Homo sapiens: one gene and its partners. The protein of the gene in region 2 purifies or fractionates together with the protein of the main gene of each other region. This does not show direct contact. Each region holds a gene or a part of one and is shown on either strand. Other genes may lie near its edges.

Evidence for each region.
Region 1: the proteins of ARID1B (region 2) and ZNF207 purify together in Homo sapiens (affinity purification with mass spectrometry; one large-scale study listed by BioGRID and IntAct). This does not show direct contact.
Region 3: the proteins of ARID1B (region 2) and AGPS purify together in Homo sapiens (affinity purification with mass spectrometry, with the first as the bait; one large-scale study listed by BioGRID). This does not show direct contact.

The regions. Positions count from the first base shown.
Region 1 is NC_000017.11:32,370,657-32,374,156, reverse strand, and holds part of ZNF207 (BUB3-interacting and GLEBS motif-containing protein ZNF207), read right to left. Parts: 3' UTR 1-3,500. UniProt on the Homo sapiens protein: Kinetochore- and microtubule-binding protein that plays a key role in spindle assembly. ZNF207/BuGZ is mainly composed of disordered low-complexity regions and undergoes phase transition or coacervation to form temperature-dependent liquid droplets.
Region 2 is NC_000006.12:157,207,378-157,211,211, reverse strand, and holds the end of ARID1B (AT-rich interactive domain-containing protein 1B), read right to left. Parts: coding exon 3,321-3,834; 3' UTR 433-3,320; downstream 1-432. UniProt on the Homo sapiens protein: Involved in transcriptional activation and repression of select genes by chromatin remodeling (alteration of DNA-nucleosome topology).
Region 3 is NC_000002.12:177,493,644-177,497,377, reverse strand, and holds part of AGPS (alkyldihydroxyacetonephosphate synthase, peroxisomal precursor), read right to left. Parts: intron 1-3,734. UniProt on the Homo sapiens protein: Catalyzes the exchange of the acyl chain in acyl-dihydroxyacetonephosphate (acyl-DHAP) for a long chain fatty alcohol, yielding the first ether linked intermediate, i.e. alkyl-dihydroxyacetonephosphate (alkyl-DHAP), in the pathway of ether lipid biosynthesis.

The DNA of each region.
Region 1 (3,500 bases), on a different chromosome or scaffold from region 2:
AGGCTGAGATGGGTGGATCACCTGAGGTCAGGAGTTTGAGACCAGCCTGGCCAACACGGCAAAACCCCATCCCTACTGAAAAATATTGAAAAAATAGCCAGATGTGGTGGCGGGAGCCTATAATCCCAGCTACTCGGGAGGCTGAGGCAGGAGAATCACTTGAATCCGGGAGGCAGAGGTTGCAGTGAACCGAGATCGCACCACTGCACTCCATCCTGGGTGATAAGAGTGAAACTCCGTCTCAAAAAAGAGAAGGCACATTTCAGTATCCAGTGGCATTTCCAATGATTAAACTTATCCTTGAGGTTAAATTTAATAGTTTATGGAGAAAATAAAACCAGTAAGATTTTCCTAGAAGTGAAAGTAAAAAACTTGAATGAAACATTTCTTGCCTCCAATCAAAAATATCAAATTTTGTCAATTTATTGAAGTTCAATATAGGAACACAAGCTTTACTGAAGCTGTTAATTATGTAACACACAGCAAATTACATAAAATTGCATATGAAATACTTATGTTTATTAACACCACAGTCAAACGTGAATATTAATATAGAGCCTTCTCTGCCAAAAGAGTATAAAAATCCTAAGTTTAATTAAATTTAGGGGCCTTCACCAAACTTGCTGCAAGTTTGGGGACATAAATATCCAACAGCCATAAAGCTGTGAAAGCCCCTATAAGGAATAAAATAAATCCCACTTGCCTCAGACTGAACAGGGCAACACTGAGACTCAGCCTCAGCCTGTCCTATGGCAGGGCTATAGGAAGAAGAAAATTTTAATTTTAGAAAAACAGTTCCCAATTAATTTAAAAGACATGCATTAAAATTTTTTTTTTTAAAAATCCCAATGATCAAGCAAGCAAAAGGAGCAGCTTTGTTTTTAACTATTGTCCACTACAATTCCACTCTGAGCCCGTACTTCTTTTTGTTGGGGAATCCCCCTCCCCAATTAATTAAGTTTAATTAAGGTGAGTCTAAGTTCAAAATGTAACTTAGTGGAATAGGAGTACAGTAGGAATATTTTATTCATACCTAATGGCAAATGTGTGAGACACTACTAAAATACTAAGTATTCAAATCAAGTAATTCCAGCAGCCACTCAAAAATTAATCCTTACCTGCTGTGGTCTTGTTAAACAGTATGAAAACTTATACAACAGAAACTAGTGCCAGACAAAATGTTTTCTTGTTTTTCTAAAAGGGGTGGATGTAAGGTAGAGCCAAAGTTGCCAGCCCTACTAACCTTACAGCTTCCTTAATTATGACAATCACAATGCCTGCCTGAATTATCAAGTCCCAAAAGTTGTCTTCTGTGAGGGCAGTTGGCATCCACTTTGACTCAACTTCATCTACTACTTAAGGAAGGTTGAGTCAGAGTTAATTATATGAATATAATTTGCTCCACTCATAATTCAACCACACTATGGACCCCAGAAGCATTTAGAAAAAAGGTATTTTCTAGAAGCTTAATTACGTTTGGATGCATGCAAAAATTACACTTCAAATATATTAAATGGGTACACCACCTCTGAGCCTATAGCTACAAACTCAGGAACTCATGAGCTTAAGTTTTATCTGCCAATGCCTAACACTTTCAATTAATTTTTAATTAGAATTCTATCCCATATTTAAAAGTTCCATTTTTGCCCATCAGACCTATACAGAGAGCAAAAAACCTTGCTACAAAGTATCAACCTTCTTTGCATAAAATGCAAATAAAGCTTCACATAATTTCTGAAACAGGTCTACTAACCCTATTGCAGTTTGTCAATAACCGTATACATGAAATTCCTGAGAATTTGGGAGAGCACCCCTTACTTAATTATTCTAAATTTAATCACAGCATTTTTTTTTTTTGAGACGGAGTCTCAATCTGTCGTCCAGGCTAGAGTGCAGTGGTGTGATCTCCGCTCACTGCAAGCTATGCCTCCCGGGTTCACGCCATTCTCCTGCCTCGGTCTCCAGAGTAGTTGGGACTACAGGCATCCGCAACTACGCCCAGCTAATTTTTTGTATTTTTAGTAGAAACGGGGTTTCACCGTGTTAGCCAGGATGGTCTCCATCTCCTGACCTCATGATCCACCCGCCTGGGCCTCCCAAAGTGCTGGGATTACAGGCGTGAGCCACTGCGCCCGGCCTATCACACCATTTTTATCTTAAAGACTTTCAACACAAGTTTTCCTTCAGCAGTATATTAAGTGTGCTGCCAAATCAAAGCAGCATGTATTAATTTTGAAACCATTTAGGTAAGCAGAGGTTCAGAGGGGAAAGTGGTTTGGGACTTGGCTGCTGGCAGAAAGAAATACATTACTGGCAAAATACCTGTTTTATTTTCAAACTATGAAAATTTTTGTACCACTATGGTACCACAAGCACAGGAGCCAAAATCATTGAAGCCAGATAATCAGATATTTTAATTTATTTTTTGACAGAGTCTCGCTCTGTTGCCCAGGCTGGAGTGAACATAGCTCACCGCAGCCTCGGAAGGAGGAAGAACCTCCTTCCTCAGCCTCTTGAGCAGCTGGGACCACAGACACACACTAACGCGCCTGGCTAATTTTTAAATGTTTTGTACAGATGGGGTTTTGCCATGTTGGCCAGGCTGGTCTCAAACTCCTGGACTCAAGCAATCCTCCCATCTCAGCCTTCCAGAGGGCTGGGATTACAGGCGTGAGCCACTGCACCCAGCCAATGTGAGTTAAAATAGCATTCAGCTTTATAATACTTGCAATGTTTTGCTTAAAGGTATGACTTTCATCTGTCACATAAATACGAACTCTTTTGTGATGGCTAAATCACTTTTCAATATATTTTCCTTCAAAGTTAAAGCCCTTTTTTCCATACAACTTCAGACTTCATGTGTTTTATCTATACCTTCACAGGAAAGTTATAAAGAAATGTTACCATTTTCTTAGAAGTCTTAACTTTATAATGAGAAAAACTCAACTTGAGTTCATTATATTAATACTTTGCATAGGTTATTTGATGCCTAAAAAATCATAAAACTACCCTGCAAAAGATCAGAAAAACAGATCCCAAAAAGGTCAACAAGAGCTATTATTTTAAGAGGTTGCAACACAAAATATTGAATAGCAGTCATCTCTACAGAAAAGCTCTCTGTAAGAACACAACATTCAAAATTTCCAAGGATAAATAAAAAGTTGCACAGTAAGGCTACCTAGGCTTAATAACAGAAGGTACTCAAATGAATAATGTAATCTTCCAGGAACATAATAAAAATTGCCAATTCATCTGTTAACCATCCCAACAGAGACACATTTAGATTCTCAGCATTACACTTAGAATAATATATAATAACCCATTAACAGCACAAGAAGCTATTACTGCATGCACCTAAGCTTCTAGAAGTTTGCACCTGAAAAGCTTCTGAGGTCCATGCAGTACTGAGTCTCAAAAATAATCAAAAGGAAATGAATGGGTCTGGCACTAGGCTCTAAACATCTCAGCAGGAAGGAAAAGTGTTAACATTTACATTTTAA
Region 2 (3,834 bases):
GTGAACCAACACTCAGCAAGAAGAACAGGGACTGTTTGCACTGTCCATTTGTGGCTCATTTATAATACTTTCTTTGCTTCCTCAAAGGTGAACAGACATGGGAACAGGTACATGTGGTTTGATAGGAAATGAAAGATTTCCAACAGTTTTAAATGGATGGACTTCAGGGCAAAGGCTGGCTTCTTTTCATAAAGGAGGTAGTTAATAGCTTACATTGTATGAGACTGCCCATATGCCCTTAAAAAAATCATTCTTCATTATAACTCTGAAAAAACAGCTTAACTAGTCTTTGAACAGGCCACCTTCATCAGTAAAACATGCTTCTATATCATTCTCTTCCTCGAACAAAACACTGTGAATAGCTATTGCTGAGCAGACGCCGCCCAGTATCTCTTATGTGACATTAAAAAAATCCACTCAAATACCAACAGATTCAACTTTATAGCACCATTCCAAAATACTAAACTTTCTTTGCACCTTTATTTTTTATCTTTTTTTTTTTTTTGGTACACATGTAAAGTCTGGGCATCCTGTAAATTTCTGAAAAGCCTCATAGAAAAAAAAAAACCGACTAATTTTTAGGACAAAGCAATAACTCAGTTTATAGGCAAGATGATCTCAAGCAGGCTGTAAATTCTTCGTGGGCTTCTGTAAATCTTGATTCGGGGGTGAGAATATGGAAAGGAGGCTAAAGTCTTCCTGGATTAGTCTCTAGAGACTGTGTTGCGCATCAGGATAGAAAAACTTGTTGCCCAACGGTCAGACTCTGCGTATCGGTTACAATGCAAACCATAACAACAGTCTTTTGTTAATTATTTTACTCTTCTGATTGACAAAGGAATTGGAATACTGGATATGTTCGGAGTTTGTATACACCTTTTATTTGTACTCTGTAAGAGAGAAATTAGAATAATATTGAATTCCCTCTTACAAATCTCCATATTTGAAGCTTGGAGCACTGAAATCTGTTCTTAGCAAGCAGATGTATTTAAAGCAGAATTATAAATGGGTCTTTAATTCAACATATATTTGGTTGCATTGTTATGTAAGAAGACTGTTTGACTCAGTAATGTGGGAGTTGACAGATGAGAGACTGTTTGCAGAAAAGATGATTTTTTTCCTCGTGACACTGGAGAGTCACGTCTCACAATGACTGTAACTGCATGTTCTTGTCTAACTCTTCCATATATTACTGTGAGTAATGTGAACCGACACAATGTATGCGAGGGGCTGGGGATTCTGAGTATACTGTGATTGGGAGAGGGAAGAGAAGAGGTAGAGGTCCACTAACAGCATAATTATGCAGCAGTTTCAAAGAAATCGATTATTACACAGTAACAGTCAATGACCCAGGAAGAGAAAGTTTAAATTAGAAGTGACTAGTATTAAAAAGCTACTGTGCACCAGGTAGGAAGGAATATGAGAACCATAATATGCCCTGAAATAGAAATCATCACTTTGCACTATGTACACCACATACAATATAACAGATTCTTTTTTAACATTGCACAGTATAAATATTATACACGGTGGAGTAAACTAAATGCAAAATAACTCTGAGGCACACAGAAGAAACAAGGAATAGATTGAACTTTGATTAAACTAAGATGGAGTTAGTAAAAGGCAGAATGTTACATTTTCAGGCCAGTTAAGCTTCTGAGATCTCACCTCAAGTGGGTCAGCAGCCACCTCCCATAAATACTGAAAATGATCATACCTCAATGTCGTTAGAGTTAATTGCTTCAAAGAAAGACTAATTAGCTAAGTAATTTGAGAAAATCAAACTGTTGCTCCCCACTCTAAAGTAGGTAACCCCTAAAGGTCTCTTCCAAATGTAGGGTTTTATAATGTGAATACACTGCTGCATTCCCCTATTTCTTGTAAATAACTTGATTACTAGGAAACCACTTTAAGGAAACTAGAACAGTATTCAAGAACACCCATCACAGTGCTTAACAAGATTTAATGTACATTTATTCTTAACATGTGGAACATATAAAGATTTTATACTGAATAAATGATATTCATTAAGCCAGAGGAAAAGGAGGAATTTACATCAAGTTTTTTTCTTTTTTTTTTTTTTAAACTACATTATCTTGAAATACAAATGTGGATTCTCATCACTGAAAAATCTTTGAAGTTGTGTTTCTTCCTTTTAGTTGTATTTTTTTCATTTTCTCTTTTTTGACTGTACTGGTAACCATTTTCTAAATCAATCCATATATAACCATTTCCACACCTTGATTCATGAAGCAAATTGTGATCAGCTGCTCTCCTGAAATCGAGCATGACTTTATACATACAGAAACTTGTACATTACCCTCTTTTTTTTTTGTTTTTGTTTTTTGTATTTTTTCTTTCTTTTTTTGGAGATATGGCCCTAATGAAAAAATATATAAAATAAAAATAAAAAATTATTTAAATCTACCATCACTTCGTAGTTACCACATCATGAAAAAGAAACTAAAACTTTGTACTAAAAAAAAAAAAAAAAAAGAAAAGAAAAAAATGAGGGTATGTTTAATGTACAACTTCTATATACATCACAGCCCATAGGCAGTAAAAAAAATATTTAAAAAATGATGAAAGGAATTGTGAAGAACTGTCACGTGGAAGGTCAAACGCCGACAGCAGGCATGACGGGAGTGGTGAGGAGCAGTTTCCGGATCGTTGTCAGGTATGTATTCTCAATCTTAAAAAACATTGTTTTTGCTCCCAGCCTAATGGAACCATATTCCTGTGGAGAAACCAGTATCATTTCATAGTTTTGACTACTGACCGACATACCTCCTTGAGCCCCTATACCTGTATCTGTAGAAATTTCTATTGCACAGAACTTTGGGTGATGGGATGCAGTTTTTTTCATTCTCTGAGGAGTAAAACGCATAGGAAATGGATAATTTTTCACCTTTTTGACTCAGTGTGGTGAAATTTTCGCATCTTAGCATCTTTTGCCACAACTTTTTTCTTTAAAGTCAATTTGCTTCCCCCAAAAATGCAATACAACATGGGAAAGAACATTAAAAAGATCTGTGAAGAACAAAAAGTGACCTTTGAATGCACTAGACAGCAACTTTGGTTAAAAAAAAGAGAAAAAAAAAACCCCAAAGGATGTACTTATACACACAGACAGCAAATATTAATTTCATAACTGTTCAAATTAATTATTTCTTTAATTCCCAATTGGTAAATAGTGAATGGGGCAGAGGAGCAAAGATTTTCTTTTCCTTCTTCCTACGCTGGATAAACAAGAACAGAAAACAGCCAGTTATATGTGACCCTCTAATCTTCACTCACACATGCTTGCCTTCTCACTTATGTCATAACTGCCCAATCTGAAACAGTACATCACAGATGACAGATGCAACCAGAGAGTTCAGGACAGCTGATATCGAGATATCCAGCAACCGGCCCTCGTGCAAAAGGAATTCCGAGCGGTTTTCGTCCACTCTGGCCATGGCTAGCAAAGCCTTGGCCGCCCTGCACATCATGTCTACGCTAGGTGGTTCCAGGGGCGGGGGCTGCATGTGCATGAGGTTGTGCTGGCTCTGCTGGTACTGGGCCATCGTGACCCCATCCTCTAGGAAGCTTATCAAGTTTCCAATGCTTCCTTTCTGCACAGCTATGGCCCTTGCTGCTAGTGCGTCCCCTTGGGCAAGGTTCGATAAAAGCGCCATGGACATTTCTCGACAGACTGGGTTTTTGCGATCCCCAACGTACCTAACTAATGTAGCATAGAATTTCTCCTGACGACTAAATGGAGGAGTGGCCAAGATCAGGTCCACATTATTGTCCTGGATACTGAGTTTACAGAGGGTCTCCAGCACAAGTCTC
Region 3 (3,734 bases), on a different chromosome or scaffold from region 2:
GTTTACACATAATAAAATTACTTCATTAATTTTTATTTCATTAAGAACACCCATGGTGGCTGGTTTTACTTTTTTTTTTAATTATATAGAAACTATTCAGAACTATCCAAATATGGAGTTAATGCCAAGTTTAAGGTTGTTTCTTAATTAATTGTTAATTCATCCAGAATTCTTGGCATAAAACTAGCAATTGCTTCCTTAATCACACCCGGAGAGTTAAAATTGCCAAAATAACATAAATGGAGTCTCAAAGTCTGTTAAATTAACATCTTTGCCTGCAGATTAAGCTTAATTGAGTGAAAACCTTTTACTGTTTTCTCACTTTTCAGAAAGTAGTAACGACTCAACTCCTATGATTGCTACATTTAAGAGTCATGCATCTGGCCTCAGTGTTAGCAGCCCAATTCAGAAAAAGGTGTCATACCATTTATACAAAATTTTTATAAAGAATTTCAGTCTTAAGTAAGTCAAAATTATCTCCAAATAAAAAGTTTTCTTTTTTAAAAAAGCCTTTAAGGTTTGGGGATTTTGTTTGTTTTTAAAGTGTAGGCCCTTCCTTTCCTTCTTTTAAAATAGGTGCAAAGAGCAAACTAGCTGTTTCTAAAACTATCACTGGTAGTTTTTTTCTATCCATTTTTTATAAGAATCTCAATCTGTAATACTACTTACTACATTTTTGCTGATTATAATAGGAAACTGTGTTACATAAAAGACCAAGTAATAGAAGTCTTAACCAGAGGCTAAGAATTAGATATCTATGCTATACCTGAGGCATTAAAAAACAACAACAAAGAAACAAACTGAACTGCAGGTTAGATAGAGATCAACCTAGCAATCTTTTTGAGCTCCTGGATCACAAGTAAGAGATACGCTTGGGGATTTTTTTCTTTTATTTTAAACTATCAGAGATGCTTCCTAGTATAACTAGCGCTTTAAGAGACAATTTCTAATATCTATAAAGATAGAAATAACGTATCATCAAAACATTCATTTCTGGTCCCAAATGGAACTCATCCTATATTAACAACAATTAGAAATACATATATAAACATTTATATATTGAATGTGCATGTTGTGTTCTTGGCAGAAGTTGAAATTATCTATTCTTTATACAAAAGATTCACTTATCTTTATACAATGCATGCGGACTCCATATGATACTACTCTGATATGAAATAATCCTTAAGGGTAAATGTTCACTTAACTCATCGAGATTTATATGCACAATTTCCATTAATGCTAGTAGAATTACTCACATACATCTGTGATACTAAGGTGACATGATAGCTTTGAAGAATAAATTATTGTAAAAGTGATACTGACTTTTAGGTGGGTCAAGCATTAGTATCAACTAGATAATATTATCTTTTACTTTTTCTTAAATATGTTGCCTAACAATATAATTACATTTTAAATATATTCTAGCTATTGTGGGTTTGTTTTTTTTTTTTTTTTTTTTTGAGACAGAGTCTCACTGTGTCACCCAGGCTGGAGAGTAGTGGTGTGATCTCGGCTCACAGCAACCTCTGCCTCCCCGGTTCAAGCAATTCTCCTGCCTCAGCCTCCCGAGTAGCTGGGACTACAGGTGCTCGCCAACATGCCCAGCTAATTTTTGTATTTTTTTTTTTTTTTAGTAGAGACAGGGTTTCACCATGTTGGCCAGGCTAGTCTCAAACTCCTGACTTCAGGTGATCCGCCTGCCTTGGCCTCCCAAAGTGCTGGGATTACAGGCGTGAGGCACTGCACCCAGCTGCTATTGTGGTTTTTTAAAATATTAAACTCACTTCCAAATTTACTAGCTGGACAGTTTGATCAGTGAATTTTCTGTTATTTCAATGTTAATCGTGTCATTTAACAGGATTTATTAATTATCTATATTTTAAAGCAGTGGTTACAGACAGTGCAAAAACTCCTGGGCTTTGTAGTCAGACAAATCTGGGTTCATCCCTAGCTCTACCACGTATGATTTGTGGACCGTAGTCAAAATAATGAGTCTTTGAGTCATTTGTAAAGTGGGGATACCACTCTGACGAACAGTCATGAATAGAATTTTATAAAGTGTGCTATTGACAATGTAATCAGCACTATGCCATCTAGGATTTGTTCACCCCCTTGCCAATTTGATGATTAATTGAATCAACATATAAATGCCTATTACGTGATAAGTGCAGGTGATAGAAAAATGACTAAGAAACATACCCTAAATTCGAGAAACTTTGGTTTATAGAGGACATCTTTGGATTATTTCAATATACACAATGATATATATCATTTCAATATACTAAAATTAGATAATGTCAATATAATGTATTAAGAGTTGTACCTGAAGTAGAGATTATATTAAAAATATTAACAACTAATAATATGGCATGTGCTTTGTTAACAACCAATGTGGTATAAACACCGACCAATCAGCCATACGGTTAGTGCAGGGTCTGGGGCACCTTTTGTTGTGCTAAGCATTATTTCCTCTTTTGCTTGATCATGAAGCCATGGCAGGATATATTAATGTAAAGGCTTCAATTAAAATTGAGAAATAAAAAAGGTTATATAGACAGCCAAAAAGCATGATCAGATCTGTATTTCAAAAGGATCACTTTGGTGGCTAAGTAAAGGGCAGAGAGAGGGGAGACACAGTAAAGACTAGAGAAGGTAGAACCTATAATACCACAGACAGGAGCAAGCTAGAGGGGAGCAAGTAAGTATGTTTTCAGGTATAGTAATGAGAACATGGAAGAGGGATGACAGGAAGACTTTCTTTAAACCTTCACTTTAAATTGTTATGGACTCCAATTATAAATAAGTATGGCCAAATCATAACTAATTTTACAAATGCCTAGGTCTAACATTGTTTACAACAACAATAACATATAAACGAATAACACAGTCTTATTAATTAGATGCATGGCTCTCTTTAAGACCTAGATCTTTAAATGCAGGCCAAAACACACAAGTGGTTTTTCACTTGATTTAAGTATTTCATTACTTATAGAACATATTTATCTTAAACTTTTGTCAGTAGTATAGTATTTTGAAAGTAATTTACTTAAAGAAATAAACAATTATGACTAACTTAGAAGAATGTAATTTTAAAACTCTTAATATGTTACGAACCTGACTTTAGTTAAGTTTCTATGTAACTATAACCATGCTTCCCTAAATTAAAATCTCAGCTTACTTTTAGACATGACAAAAGCCTGCCTATCTTTGCCTTTAGTATTTATTACTGAACGATCACTCTCATGATTTTAGGAATTGTTTTGAGGGTATTTAAATTCTATAAACTTAAATCCCAAAGTAAATTTCACAATATAACTACAACCCATTATCATATCTTTTTCCCAAGACCACCACCCATTCTTCTATGTTATTTAATCTACCCAATCAAATCAGTCTAGGTGTTGTCTTCAACTCCTCCTTTTATTTAGCCTTCCACATCCAGTTAGCAAACTGATTTTCTGAAAATCTATCATCCGTTCTCTATCTCCATTGCTGCTGCCATGCTCAAAGCCCTCAAACTTTGCTTCTTGAGCTGTTTCATCTCCTAGTGTCTCTCCTCCATGCATGTACCCTTCTAATCTATCCTGCACAATGCTGCCAGAATGAGCTAAGATGTAAAGTTGATTGATTTTATTCTTCAAAGAAATCCCACTGCTGACAAGACAAAATCCAAATCTATCCTGCAAAGCCCTAGCCCACCCAACCAACTTTATCTCATGTAACAACTCTAACCC